2 separate regions of the Homo sapiens genome follow, and region 2 is linked to region 1. A link means that fine-mapping ties the variant in region 1 to the expression of a gene that starts in the linked region. Tissue or cell type: blood mononuclear cells. Region 1 holds a variant in brackets; the other region holds the start of a gene. All regions are shown on one strand. Distances are between the middles of the regions.

Region 1 (8,112 bases):
TTCAACTCTGACATATGTGTGAGAACGTTTGATATTTATCTTTTTGTGCCTAGCTTCAATTAAACCATTTTGGAAGAGTTTTGACCAGAAATTGCATGTAGCCATTTACAGAATAAAATCGCCCACTAAAAAATTATGTTGGAGATAACAAACTTAGAAATACATCAATATTTAAAAACAACTTTTCAGAAGTTTAAATCAGTATTTAGTATCTTCCCAAATACTATGTGGTTTTAATCATAATTTTGTAATATAAAGAAAACATTATGATTTTTTAAAATACCAAGCTTCATATAGATACTTTTACATCCCCTCTAGTTTTCCTCCAGAGTTTGGGACCATTATTTTGCTATGTGAGTCATAACCTGAACAAGGTGTAATGCATTATGTTAGGGACTTTTCTGTGCATAAACAAATGTGCATATTTGTTTGTGTATATACATACACACATAGACAGTCCCTAACTTACCATGGTTTGGCTTAACAAGTTTTGGAATTTACAATGGTGCAAAAGCCATAGGCATTCAGTAGAAACTGTACTTTGATTTTAAACTTTGATGTTTTCCTGGGCTAGTGATATATGGTACATGCTGAGCAGCAGTAGCAAGCCACAGCTCCCAGTCAGCCATGCTATCATAAGAGTGAAGGACTGGCGCTCTGCCGTGTGCAGTGTTGCCAGCTGATTTTGCCCAACTTTTGGCAAATATAAGCTGAACACATTTAGGGTAGGACAGGCTAAACTACGGTGTCATAAATGCATTTTTACTTAATGATATTTTCAACTTAACAATGGGTTTATCAGGATGTAACCTCATCTTAAGCCAAAGAGCATCTGTATGTGCAGACATTTATTATATTTATTTATAAAATGAAATCCATAAAGTCATATATTAATATATTTTGTATTTATTATATTATAAATATTTATAAAGTTCCATATTTTTACACATGTGAAATGACAGTATACATATAAAGCAAAGGCTGGCTCCTTCCTTTAAATAACTTTAATTATTTTTTTAGTATGCACAGTACTATGTTATTTTAAAAAACGGCAGCATAGTATTTTATATAGTATTCTATATTGATATCTTATAATTTGTCAGTCTTATATTAATAATATGCAGGTTGTTTCCAGATTTGTCTCTGCTATTACCAATAATGCTGCAATAAATATTTGTGCAAAAGTATCTGTAGACTGGATTCCAACAGTGGAATTGCCATGCCAAAGGCTGCGTGATTTAAAATTTGTTAGAGACTATCAAATTACTAGCAAACTTTAGCACTAATTTACTCTCTCACTTACAGTTTATGAGGGAGCCTCTTTTCCCACACTATTGCCAACAGTCTTAAGTTGTCTATCAGAAAGTTGAAAAATGCTACCTTCTTTCTTTCTTTAATTATGGGTCAGAAAATAAAGAGATATTATGAGAAACATAAACTCGCTTGCACTAAATAATTCAATCAATCATCATCTATAGGAGAAAACATAAGAACTTAATCGAAATTTATTTCTTAATTATTCTAAGATAAAATGAGGCAGTAAAAGAATAATGGGAAAGCTATCAATATAATAATATTTATGGGAAAACCAACTTTGCTTTTACTTCAAAAATGTTTTAACCATTATTAAAATGGATTTTGACAGTCAATATGGCACGTTGTAAGGGCAAGTTAAGGCACAAAGATCATGTGACTGAGAACCAGGGAACCTGGTTTAGAGTCTTACATATAATTAGTCATCTATGATAGTCTTATATACAATTAGTGGTATGATTTTGAGCAAATCATTGAACCCTATTTAGCCCTTCTGTGTCTATTATCTCAGGTGTGTAAGGTAAGGGGTTAGGGCCTCAATACCTTAAAAAATTGTACAAATGAAAGAATTTCTAAGTTCAATCGATATTGCTATTGATGATTTCCAAAATGAAAATCTTCCTATTCTAATCCTCCAGTAGGTGGTGATGTTATAACACCTCAAATAGTTACTGATCTAGTAACTTGGAATCTTTCTTCAAGATTCATTTTAGAAATATTCTTTTTCATTGTAGTAAAATTTTAATGTTATATAGAGAATGCGTTTATAAAATTTCTGTTACATTTAATGTACTCACCTAAGATATCAGTCAATTATTAATTTGTTCTTTTAGTGTCTATGGAAAAGAAATCCAAATTTAATTAATAATCTTAGGTGACATGATTTCCAATCTGTTATAGTTTTCTTAATTTAGTAAATTTTATAAATAGTTTGGTTTTAATTAATTGACTTAATTAGAAGACAATAAGTGAACAGAGATTGAACTTTGTTTATCTTACTTAAACTTGAAATATACTTTATAAGAAGATAAAGGAGAGCCTCAAATAAGGTCTCCAGCTATCTTGCTAGAAGATCACCTTTTACTAATTGTATAATTATAAAAAAAATCAAAGGCATCAATCAAAAACTTAGAAGTTCTCCAGAAGTTCCAAGAATTTATGACTAAGACCTCAAAAGCAAATGCAACAAAACCAAAAATAGACAAATGGGACTTAATTAAACTAAAGAGTTTCTGCACAGCAGAAGAAATAATCAAAGGAGTAAACAGATAACCTACAGAATGAGAGAAAATATTTGCAAACTGTGCATCCGACAGAGGACTGATATCCAGAATCTACAAGAAACTCAACAAGAAAAATCAAATAACTCCATTAAAAAGTGGGGAAAGGGCACAAACAGACACTTCTTAAAAGAAGAAAAACAAGTGGCCAAACATGAAAAAACTGCTCAATATCTCTAATCATCAGAGAAATGTAAATCAAAACCACAATGAGATACCATCTTGCACCAATCAAGATTTCAAACAATTCTTTTTTTTTAGGTTCATTTCATTTGAATTTAATTTTATTTATTTATTTTTTATTTTTATTATACTTTAAGTTCTAGGGTACATGTGCACAATGTGCAGGTTTGTTACATAGGTATACATGTGCCACGTTGGTCAAACAATTCTTTAAAAAATTAATTATGTACATTAATGACATGTAGTTAGAAAATAAATAGATAAAATAACAAAAGACTGCATAAATGGATAGTGATTTGTCTTGAAACATAAAATGTATATTAACAGAATATGATAAAACTTTAGTAAGAAATACAGAGGAAGATACTTACCATTATAGACTAACTATAGTAAAAATGAGAATACTGTTTAAGTTAAACATAGATTAAATGTAAATATTCACTAAGAGCCCCAATGGAATATTTTATGCAATGTGACAAGTTAATAATAAAAATCTCCTGGAAAAACCAGCAAAGAAGTACACAAAATAATTTTTTTGTGGTAATGATAATTGGCTTACTCTATAAAATTTCCAACACTTCATAGAACTTTTGTTAAAATTAGTAACTAGAGAACAATACTAAAGATGATAATTAACATTTAAAAAAATTAAGAAGGAATTACTCTGATAAAGATATTTTACTCCCCAAATATAATTTTACAGATGCTTATATCATGTAAGACAATTAATGCTAAAACACTTTTACCGGAACTGACCCTGGTGAATGCCACCAATGCATAATCAAACCCTGGTTCTTAATATGCAGGTTAGAAGCCCTAATTAGAGTTATATTTTTCTACTTAGAAAAAATTTTATGCAATTCTGCTTTATGTTAAAAAATAAAAGAATTAAGTTAGAAATGTGAATCACTTAGAGAAAAAATGGTTATACATTGTTTCCTTGACAAGACATAATTTTGCTATAAAAATTTTAAATAGGATAAGCAATAATCTGAGTTGATTTAGGAGGTATTGTCTGAATGAAGGATAGGGGATGAACTCAGAAAGTCTGCAAATTTCAATTTTCTTTCTTTTAAATAAGGAATGAATAAATCCTAGCTATCAAAACTCTAGCTATCTGAATACAGAAACCTAATAGACTTGCATAAGTGGTATCTAAACTCTCATAATCCAGACTCAGGAACTGAATTAAGATAATAATGAGATATACTATGATGGATTTAAGCACAATTGAAAGGAGAAAGGAGTCTATGAAAACTGGTCTACTTTTGCCAAGAGCAGAGCGGTCTATGTAGGTGAAAAATTGTTCTGTCTCCTGGGCACAGAGCTAGACTACTTTTCCTAGCCTGCCTTGATGTGACCGTCTGGGTGCAAGTGGGTTCAGCCCTCTGAGTTTGGCCTTTAGAAATCTTCTGTGATCGCCCATACTCTTCTTCCATCTCTGAGATCCATGCAGAGGAATTGGCCGAG[A/G]ACTCTAGGAACCTAGGGGATGGCAGAGCCGCAGATGGAAGGCGTCTGGACCCTTTAGCTGCTGCCCACCTCGAATATTTGTATTTAACTTTGCATGAGTGAAAAACAGATGTGTACTAAGATCATGGGATTTGTTACTTGCTCTAATGCATGTTACCAACTTTTTATTTCTATTTGTCAAAATACATTTTTTCTTAGTTGAAATTAATGTATGAAGCATATTTTATAGTCTGCTTTCTTCTTTCAACCTTTGCATCAACTTATTTTTGTATGTAAAGAATGTTGACATGCTAACAGTTTTGAACACCTATATTAGTATTTCATGTTGTTAATATTCTCTTGAATTACCCAGCCTCAACTGTTTTCCATTAGAATTCCACTTTTTCACCATAATAAATTATGCTATTCAATACTTTTGTACCAATTATTTGGGAAACTTATCCAAAATGAAATTATCTGGCCAAATAAATGAATGGTTGAGAAAGATAAATGTGGTCAGTGGCCATTACACACTATATAAATTCCTGAAAATCACTGAGCTGTGCAAAATAAAGCAATAAAAAGTATGATCCATGAAAACAATGATAGGTTGTACCTTATTAAAATTAAAAACTTCTGCTCTGCAAAACACACTGTTTAGGGAATGGAAAGACAAGCCAGACTTTGAGAAAATATTTGCAAAACATATATCTGATAAAGTACTGGCATACAAAATATACAAAAACCTCTTTAAACTCAACAAATAAGAAAACGAACAACTTAATTTAAAAATGGGCAAAAGACCTGAACAGACACCTGACCAGAGGAGATATAGAGATGGCAAACAAGCGTATGAAAAGAGGCTGAGCCTACCTCATTAGGGAATTGCAATTAAAAAAAGGTGCCACTACACATCTATCAGAATGGCCAAAATACAGAACACTGACAACACCAAATGCTGGCAAGGATGTAGAGCATCAGAAACTCTCATTCATTGCTGGTGGGAATACAACTTTATACAGTCACTTTGGAAGACAGTTTGGTGGTTTCTTATAAAACTAAACATACTCTTACCACATGATCCAGCAATCACACCCCTTGTTGTTTACCCAAATGGGTTGAAAACCTGTTCACACAAAAACCTGCACATGGGTGTTTATAGCAGCTTTATTCATAATTAGCAAAAATTGGAAGAAACCAAGATGTCCTTCAGAAGGTGATTAGATAAATAAAATATGGTATATCCAGACAATGGAATATTATTCTGCAATAAAAAGAAATGAGGTATCAAACCATGAAAAGACATGGAGAAATCTTAGGTGCATATTGCTAAGTGGGAGAAGCCAATCTGAAAAGGCTACATACTGTAGGATTTCAACTATATGTCATTCTAGAAAAGACAAAACTGTGGAGATAGACAAAAGATCAGTGGTTGCCAAGGATTGGGGATGGGGGATAGGAAAGGAAAGGATTAATAGGGGGAGCACAGGGAGATTTAAGTGAAGTGAAACAATTCTTTATGATACTATCATGATGGATACATGTCATTATATGCTTGTCAAAACCCATAGAATTGCAACACAGAGTGAATTCTTTTTTTTTTATTATTATTATACTTTAAGTTTTAGGGTACATGCGCACAACGTGCAGATTTGTTACATATGTATACATGTGCCATGTTGGTGTGCTGCACCCATTAACTCGTCATTCAGCATTAGGTATATCTCCTGATGCTATCCCTCCCCACTCCCCCCACCCGACAACAGTGTGTGTGATGTTCCCCTTCCTGTGTCCATGTGTTCTCACTGTTCAATTCCCACCTATGAGTGAGAACATGCAGTGTTTGGTTTTTTGTCCTTGTGATAATTTGCTGAGAATGATGGTTTCCAGCTTCATCCATGTCCCTACAAAGGACATGAGCTCATCATTTTTTATGGCTGCGTAACATCCCATGGTGTATACGTGCCACATTTTATTAATCCAGTCTATCATTGTTCGACATTTGGGTTGGTTCCAAGTCTTTGCTATTGTGAATAGTGCCGCAATAAACATACGGTGAGTTAATTCTAATGTAACTATTGACTTTAGTTAATAATGTATCAATATCGGCTTATCAAGTGTAATAAATGTACAGCACTAATGCAAGATGTTAATTAATAAAAGGGAAGCAAATTATATGGGAACTCTCTGTGTTTTCCATTCAATTTTTTCTGTAAAGCTAAAACTGCTCTAAAAAATGAAGTCAATTAATTTTTAAAAATACACACTAGTGGCCGGGCGCGGTGGCTCACGCCTGTAATCCCAGCACTTTGGAAGGCCGAGGCGGGCGGATCACGAGGTCAGGAGATCGAGACCATCCTGGCTAACACGGTGAAACCCTGTCTCTACTAAAAATACAAAAAATTAGCTGGGCGAGGTGGCGGGGGCCTGTAGTCCCAGCTACGTGGGAGGCTGAGGCAGGAGAATGGCGTGAACCCCGGCGGGCAGAGCCTGCAGTGAGCCGAGATCGCGCCACTGCACTCCAGCCTGGGTGAAAGAGTGAGACTCCGTCTCAAAAAAAAAAAAAAAAAAAATACACACTGGCAACAACAATAAAAACTAGCAACAAACACACATCACAAGGCTAGGTGTGGTGGCTCACACCTGTAATCCCAGCACTTTGGGAGGCTGAGGCAGGTGGATCACCTGAGGTCGGGAGATCGAGACCAGCCTGACCAACATGGAGAAACCCCGTCTCTACTAAAAAATACAAAATTGGCTGGGTATCGTGGCACATGCCTGTAATCCCAGCTACTCGGGAGGCTGAGGCAGGAGAATCGCTTGAACCCACGAGGTGGAGGTTGTGGTGAGCCGAGATCGTGCCATTGCACTCCAGCCTGGGCAACAAGAGCAAAACTGTCTCAAACAAACAAACAACAACAACAACAACAACAACAAAACACATCACAGGGCAAAAATGAGATTACAGGCCTGACACTCAAAATACTTCATGAGTGGCACACATTGATTTGACTCATAATGACTAGGAAGTAAATATTTTAAGTAGTTAACAGCAAATAAAAAAAAAAAACCTGAAATGACTAATGTTGGTGTGACAAAGAACACCAGGTGTATATATTCAATGCTGCTCATCTTTTAGAGTAATATGATGTACATAATAAGGGATGTGAATGGGTGTGGCTCACATGCATGGTGAATGGAGTTAGCTAGTAGGAATTGGAAGGGGGTATGTGTTTTGTGTATTCCTACAATTTAGTTCAGTTGGATGAAATATTCCTAGTGTTTCTTGCAGACAAAATCATGCATAAGAAAATGGGAAATTTGAGTAATTTTCCCAAATGAATAAGTTAATTAATTGTGCCAGGACAAATTTGGTTTTCAAAGCAAGCATCATCACACAACTGACTGTAGTATTAAAAGGCTTATTAAAACAACGGTCTTTGATTTCTTTCATCAATGTCTTCTAGTTTTCAGTGTGCAGGTCTTTCACTTCCTTGGTTAAATTTATTCCTAAGCATTTTCTTTTTTTGCTATCTATTGTAAATGGGATTGACTCTTCATTTCTTTTCAGATAGTTTGTTGTTAGTATACATTATTATACAGAAATGCTACTGATTCTTGTGCAACTTTGTTTATTAGTTCTAACAGTTTTTATTTGTGGAGTCTGTCTGCAGGTTTATTTTTTATTATTTTATTTATTTATTTATTTATTTTGAGATGGGGTTGCACTCTATTGCCCAGGCTAGAATGCAGTGGTGTGATCATGGCTCACTACAAACTCTGCCTCCCAGGCTCAAGCAATCCTCCCACCTCAGCCTCCTGAGTAGGTGGGACTACAGGTGTGTGCCACCACACCTGGCTAACCTTTGTACTTTTTGTAGAGGCA
Region 2 (8,112 bases), 390 kb after region 1:
GCTCTGCCTAAAGTCTAAAATAAAATAAATGAATATATGAAATGAAGATTTGATTCAATGTTTCCAAAATCATCATAATCCCCTCTGATGTACTTAAGTGATCAAAATGAATAAACCTCCTTTAACCTAAGGGAAAGAAAGTCACTTGGCATAGGGGGAGCTGTGCTGCTCTCAGAACACCTGAGCAACGAAGCCAAAAACAGACCCAACATTCTTTATTACTTCTAAATCTAAGACATTTTTATCAGAGTCTACATAGTTCAAAGAAGCTAAATGTGCCATCTCTCTCCTCAACCTTCCTAAAACAAGTGATCTTTAACAAGGTATTGTGAAATCTTAAAAGGTTTCCCCTGAAAACTAAAAGTGGCGTACCTTTTCTCATTTTAGACTCTTTGATAATCAAATGTTAACCACAAAATTCAAAGTATGTCAATGAGTTATAGAGAAGAGATTTGTTGACATCAAACCTGAAAAGAAGGTATGAAACACAAACACTTCCAGCAACTGAATGTACAAGGCAGAAGTTATTCCTCCTGGCATGACAGAAAGATTCATGGGGTCTGGAGACACACACACCTTGCTACATATTAGCTATGTGACTCAGATAAGTCACTTCCCTTCACTTGTATTATAGAAAGGGGATAACAGCACCTACTCTCTCTTAGAGGAGACACCACACCCACCATCAACCATCGAGGATTTTGCTGGTCCCAGAGCCAGCCCTTAGAGATAACTGTTATTATGAACCAGAAAATCCTTTTTCTGAGTGTACTAGATTTCTAGCCTTGGTGTCTGTACTGAATAGAATGAATGTATTTTTCTTGGATGAGTCATGACTTTGCAACACTTCAGTCTTCATCCTGAATATCAATTCTCACTGCATCATACCAGGAGCCAGAAGAATGATGCAAATCAAAGTAAATGAGAATTGGCCCTAGGAAGTTGTTTTCTTAAATAAATTCAAGATGCAAGTAGGTTTCTGATCATTTGTTTCTCTCTCCTAAAAAGTTAAGTATGAAAAAAAGTTCAGATTAGTTGGAGATCTCTAGGCTCAGCTGATCAATCTGACTCTACAATGGGAAAATAAAATAAAGTGAACAGTTTCATAATAATATTTTTACAAGCAATGTTTGTCTAGCACCTAAAATGCGATGGCTTTCAGACAGAAAAATGGCCAATAGTCTACAAATGTTGAACATATAAAGTACAAATTTAAAAACAAACTGTATTCCCAAAAAGATTGTTGGACAGTGTCTGGTTGGTAAGAGTATGTTTTGGGGGGCAGCAAACAATGGGATTGCTAAATTAATCCCTGGGATTCTACTAGACCATACATATGCCTCCTCCACCAGCCTTGTCCACAGCACCATCTACTGCCAAGCCACTGTGCCTACAGCAGTTTTGCTTCTGCAGGGCCCTAAGAGTTAATACCATGCCTTCGCTTAGCTAAGTTATTTAGGAATCACGATTTTTTAAAAAGTCACTTCAAAGTTAAAGGGGAAAGGAGAACATGAAATAAGAGTAAACTCCTGACAATCATTTAAAATATCTAAATAGGAAACACAATCTTTGGTTACTAACACATGGCAAATAAGTAGTTTTAAATAAGTGAGTTTTCTTATCTTAGCTAGTTAGGCTATAAATCCTGCTCTAAAATATTTTAAAGCATGAAAAAGAATTAAATGCTCTGGTTGTTGTATATACAGTAGACATATTTATCTTTTATCATCTTTTAACACTGTGAGAGTTACTTAACTCTGCTGTACCAACGGTTCTTTCCATTGGGAATTGGAAGTGGGATTCTAAACCTAGAGAACAAGGGAGTGCAGGGGAGGTAAGGAATGGGGTTCAGAGCCCAGGTCTTCCCTAATGTGGAGGCCTCTCTTTAAACAATTAGGCTCTTAAAGACAACCAGGTCTCCTTATGAAAGGCACCAGGGCATGACTGGGTTCAAGACTGATGTCTTGCCCTTAGAGATCCAATATATAAGATGAATTAAATCAACCCTCACCATGCATAAGGATACGCAGAGAAGCCTGTCAGTCATAGGCATAATAACAACCCAACCTCAGCCCTGATCTAAAATTAAAACCACAGACTTAAAATAGATCATGACCTAACAGATCAGAATTTTAAAAATCAAAACGACCATTTTCCAAACAGAAAATAACACATAGCTTGATAAGAAAAATTAAAAGTAATATTAGCTGACACCTAGAACTATATGCAAGGCACTGTTCTAAGCACTTTATGTCAGGCTAACAAGGCACCAACCACCTCTCTGTTCAATTAGTGACTTTACATGTACAATCTATAGTAATACTACAGATTAAATACCGTAGGGTAAACCAATGGGATGTTATCAGTGAAGGATTCTAGTTTACCATTAACTCACCTTTATTCTAGAATAACTATGCTTAATAAATAGCTTACCTGAATGACCAGGGGTTGTGATGTCACAAAAATGAGTACAAGAAATTAATACAAGTATCTTCCCAGAAATCACTACGTGTAAACTGGGGGGAAAATAATAAATACCTTCTTCACCAACAAAGGAAACGAAGAAAATGGAAGTCCTACTATCCATACTGCAAAAATGCTTATTCTACTATCATATTCCCTTTTGAGAAATAGACCAGTTACGCCAGAAGTGCAATGTTGTCACAGATGTGTGCCAGATTTTGCAGAGGACATAAGTTGGCTGTGAGGAAGAACACAGAGGTTGCCTATTTTTTAGGCAGGAAAGAAAGCCTGCACTTTTCTGTGTGTGTGTGTCAATAAATCTGAATAACAACTTGAAAGGGTTAAAAAGCTGAGCACCAGGTGTTTTCTTTCCACTTTCCAGAGTAATTTAAGCACACTGCAAAGTTATCTCCCTTCCTTCCCCACGAGCCAGCTTAAGGGAGACCTGTCACTGCCATTTACACTGTACAGCTCCAGCTCTAAACAATAGGAGGGCACCAGGCTGGGCAGCAGGCATCGCGGCTTCCCACAGCCTGTATGGGCTTTGTTGCCAAGTTATGAGCTCCGCTGGGTGATGGAGACACGAGTGAGCCAAGGAGAATTTAATTCTATTTCAAATCTGTATGCTTTCAAAGAAAATAGAGACAATTGAGGCCACGGGAGGAGCTGGAGGGGGTAACCAAAAACAAACTTTCGGAACCTCAGAATCTACATTTCTAGCAGTAATTCTCAGCAAAGGATTAGGTGGTATTGATACTCTCATAAAGTATTTAACACCGAGATTAGAGACCATTCAGGAGCGGTGGCCGAGCGGAGTCCCCATCCTTCGTAGTCCCACTCCTCCAGCAGCAACCGGCGGCGCGCTTTCGGAGCCCACCTCCGCTCCGCAGCGCGGCCAGCTTCCCCCCGCCCTGGCTCCAACCCCGGCTCCAGCCCCGGCCCCGTGCCCAGCCTCCTAGCCGAGCCCGGGACGTGCAGCCAAGCCGAGCGCAGAGGGGGCGCGGGGCAGGCAGCGGCGCTGCGCCTCCCCCGGCAGCCCAGAAAGCCGGACGGGGTCCGCCTGGGCCAGTGAGGCCGGGCTCAACGGAGACCCGGGCCGGGCGGGGAAGCTGCAGGCGCAGAGCCGGCTTAGCTCCGCGCCGCCTGGCCGCGCGCAGCTCCCGCATTGTCCGCAGTCGGGGCGCGGCGCGACCACTGAACCCGAATCCCAACCCCCGCCCAGCAGTCTCTCTCCCGGCCCCCACGGCCCAGTCTTACCTGGGCCGCTCACCCCAGTCCCTGGCGGTGCGGCCCGAGCCGGGAGCCAGGCTCCGGGGGACTGCAAGGAGGGAGAGTCGGGGCCCGCGAGGGACGAAGGGCCGAGAGCGGGCTGTAGGGGCCGCCGAGTGTTCACGGTCGCCGCCGCGGGGCCGCGGGTAGAGAGCAGACGGGGCTGGCGGAACGGGCCCAGGACGCGCGGCCGCGAAGGGCCCGGCTGGCGGCGGCCGCGATGGTTCGGTCTGCACCGAGTGGGAGGGCTCAGGCAGGCTTCGCCGGAGAGTGAGGGAGGGAACTTGGAGCCAGTTGCTGTGGCCGAGAGCGCGTGTCCCTGAGCCAGTGTACACGCCCCTCGTACACCCCGCCCCGCCTCCATCCCGCCCCCACCCCACCTTCCGGGTCCCCACCCTTCTCGCACCTCCACTCCAAGCCCTGCCTCTCTCTCAACATCTCCACCCCGCTACTGATGCCCATCCCACCCCATCCCTGACCCACCCCCCATTCCACTCGGTCGGCGCCTCCATTTCCTCCCTATCCCCCACTCCCACCTATGTCCGCACGCAAGCACCCCCACCCTGCTCCCACCCGGTGATACCGCTGGATCTCGGACTGCCACCCCAGTGCAGATCGCTCAGCACTGGAGACGTAGAGCCTGTGCCCTGAATGAGATAACCCCACCTGGTAGTCCAGCCATCCAAACGTCTTGGTGCTTGACATTTTCTGTTTACTAACTTTCATATACTCAGATGGAGCGTCCTAGCTTAATTTCTGAAGGCATTTTTAAGACTTCAAAAAAATGTTTGGAGAAAATAGTAAATAACGAAAAATATCAAGCATGATGTACTACCTCTGAAATGTGGGCCAGCTGATGTTTTAAAATGAAATGCTTTGGGGTGCGTCATTATTAATCGCCTAATATAGTATTTGAGAATACTTTCTGCTTAGATTTGCTTAATAACTTGGTTGTTTCAGGAGAGGATTTGTTTTAGGAAGACTAAACACATTGTAATTTAATTTTGCTATTGGGAAGTCTAAAAGATAAAATCCATCTTTATCAAAATGAATTTGAATGGGATATGGACTCACAAAATAATTGTTTCTTCTAGAAAATATTGAGCAAGGATTTCTTTTTAATCTCTGGTACATTAACAATACGATTTCACTCATCTCATTTTCTCAGAAAGATCGTTTATATTTGAATTGTGCTTCAATTCAATGAATCTATTGTTTCATAATAGTTAAGAAGTTGCCAACTAAATAAAACTCAGACTTTATAATAATATATTTTTTTTCTATTTAAAGATTACCATTTTAAGAAAGTGACATGATACTGGGATTTAAATGGAACTTTCCTTTGGCATACTAATACATTCCTTGTTATCACAGATTACGTTGTGGTCTCCATTAACTCCAAAAGTCATATAACAATAGAAATAAACTATTTTTCATCATTCCCATAGCAAATGGAACCAACTTCTCTCCCTCTCAAGTATACTTTTTTTCCCCACTTCTTTGCCCCAATCCCTTCCTTTTAGGAATTTCCCCCTCCCATTGGGTGTGACTAGCCCACAGAGCTTCCTGACATTGTGAGGGATATGACCCAGGCCAGCCAATTAGAATATCGTCTGAGAACAAAGGAGGAGGGTCCTTTCCCTGACTGACAGGGCAGCTCCTGGGACCATATCATATATGCGTGCAGCAGCTGGAGTCAACTTACTGGAGAATAAAACAAAACCAGAAAAAAAGCCAAACTGAGCAATGGAGACAGAAAAGTGCCCTGATGACATCAATGGCCATCCGAAGACAGTCACCTCTAAAACCAGTCAAATCCTGAACTTCTGAAGTAATGCACCAATAAATTGTCTTTCTTGCTTATGCCATTTTGAGTTAAGTTTCTTTCCAGAAGACTCACTTATAAAATCATAAAAGATTCCCCTATGATCGATGCTTTGAAAATCAGGAATGTAACCAATGAGTTTTAGCTTTCTTTCTTTTTTTTTTTTTTTTTTTTTTTGATGACAGAGTCTCACTCTGTCACCCAGGCTGGAGTGCAGTGGCATGATCTCCACTCACTGCAACCTCCACCTCCTGGGTTCAGCAATTCTCCTGCCTCAGCCTCCCGAGTAGCTAAGATTATAGGCACGGGCCACCACGCCCAGCTAATTTTTGTATTTTTAGTAGAGACGGGATTTTGCCATGTTGGCCAGGCTAGCCTGGAACTCGTGACCTCAGGTGATCCACCTGCCTCAGGCGCCCAAAGTTCTGGGATTACAGACGTGAGCCACTGCGCCGACCAAGTTTTAGCTTTTCTATTGCCTAAACTACTTCTTGATAATAAAGTATATGCCAAGGAGTTCACTTAGTAGGACCCCTAACTCTTATTATTAAGGTTCTCATTTAGGGTTTTACTATTGCCCAGTGTAGATTTAATAGCCCCAAATTGTCATCACCAAAACCAAAAACCAATAAAAGATGTGGTTAAAGAGACAGAGAGAACACAGTAAAACATCTATGCTGGAATATTTCAGTAAATATTGTCTTATCAATTATGCCAATAAAACTGCTCTCATAATCCCTAATGTTTGCTGATTTAGGACATAGTTTTCTTGTTTTGGGGACTGAAAATGTTAAGGACTGCTACAGATTTTCAGAGAATGTTGAAATTAGTTGTTTGTACTAGAATTTTATTGTGTTGTTTATTCTTCAGAAGTGGGCCATTATCCTAGGCTTGGAATTCTTTTGTTTCACAGAGGTTTCTGTCTCTAAAAGTATGTAACAATATTTGACTAGTACCCAAACAAGCATCCATACACGAATCAGAATGTAATTTAACCATTATTCACAGGTGACTCTGGACAGTGGGACTATTCCTAGCAAGCAGGGAGCCTAGGGACATGCAGTTATTAGCTCTAATCCTCTGACTGCCAAAATGGTTTCTTACGGGAAAATGTGAGCTTGAAAAGACATGAGCTCAGAGTTTTCACTAGTCTTTCTCCAGATGGGTACGTACCTAAGTTGTGTCAACAACTAGGGAAACTTTAAATGTATAAAAGCCCGTAAGCTGAATAATAACATATTATAAACAGATGCAAGCCTCACAAAAGGAGAGCATCTCTGAAAACAAAACAACCAAAGCAGCTTCAGAGGAAAAGTAAAAAAATAAAGAGTTCTGGAATCCAGTCCCCGCTCCAAGTGGCACTTGTTCTAATGATTGGCTATGCCAGGGAAAATGTCAGTCAAATATCCAGAGTACCCCCAGCATGCCTGTATTGGATCAGTGGGATGCTTGTACCCATTTTCTTGCCTAAGAGTGGTACAGCAGTCCCTCAATTAACCCAGGGTCAGTCAGACCACCCTGTCTGTCCAGAGCTCCCCCTGAAATCCTGGCATACATCAGCGGTTTTCAGACCACGAAACACAATCACCTGCAGTACTCCCAACTAATGCCAGGTCTCTAGGTTGAGGGAGAACGGATAGGCCTGTGTTGTTTTTTTTTTAAAAGATCTGCCCAAGAGATTGTAGCGATCTGGCAGGGCTAAGGTAAACAAAGTCTGTGAATCTGTGCTCTTAATTCCACAGAAAAAGACTTGAGAACCCCTCAGCCCTCAGATCAGACTCCATTGTCTTAGAATTGTATGTAAAATTAAAGTTATTGATTGAACAAGCTCAATTTGTCTTTTCCCCTTAACAACCATAGTTCTTCTGAGGAAATAGAAAAAAGCAGCGAGGAATGCACCTTAGGAGGAGCTGGAGGATTTGCTAGAAGCAATCACACTGAAAAAAGGCAGCTCACAGCAAGGCTGAGATAAGAGAGTCACTAAATAGAAAAGCATTGTCAGTTGCTGGACTAAGAGGCCACTCCACTCCATCCTGGGCAACAGCCCCTGGGGGTTCCCTCATGTTGCTTGTTTCTCAGCGTAGTGCATGTTCAGGCTGGCGACCAGAAGATCAAAACGATCGAATTATGTTCTTGAATGCTGACCTCCATCATTTAATACTAATAACTACCATTTATTGAAACTTTGTGCTAGCAGTTTATATGTTTCATTTTCATTTTCAGTGGTCACAACGGCCCTAAATGTACATAATATTGATTACCATTTTATGAACAAGAAGTTCATGCCCAGGAAAGAGACAAATCCAAGATCACAGAGTTAGTGATTAGAGGACTTAAAGCCTGGCCCATGTGATCCCAAAGCCTACATATCTTTACTATAAGCCAAGCTTGCCAATGAATCTCACATATTACCTATACAATAAGAGAGCAGTAGTCACATGAGGCTATTGAAATTTAAATGAATTAAAATTTTGTGGAATTTACATTCATTACATTAAGTTAATTAATTAATTAATTCCTTTTTTTTTTTTTTTTTTTGAGAGGGAGTTTCGCTC

The links. PIP is the estimated chance that this variant, and not a neighbour inherited with it, causes the effect.
Region 2: it holds the start of FAM110B, and the variant in region 1 is fine-mapped to the expression of FAM110B in blood mononuclear cells (TOPMed, PIP 0.98).

Annotation. Positions count from the first base shown.
Region 1 is chr8:58,382,723-58,390,834 of GRCh38, reverse strand. No RefSeq gene overlaps it. Among named protein-coding and RNA genes, the nearest start is that of UBXN2B, 25 kb to the left of the region's middle. The variant A/G (reference allele first, on the strand shown) is at 4,248.
Region 2 is chr8:57,990,415-57,998,526 of GRCh38, reverse strand. It overlaps FAM110B (family with sequence similarity 110 member B), which reads right to left and starts at 4,004. Exons shown (of 4, transcript NM_001377989.1): 1 at 3,721-4,004. RefSeq lists an enhancer at 3,053-3,553 and silencers at 3,558-3,607, 3,628-3,677.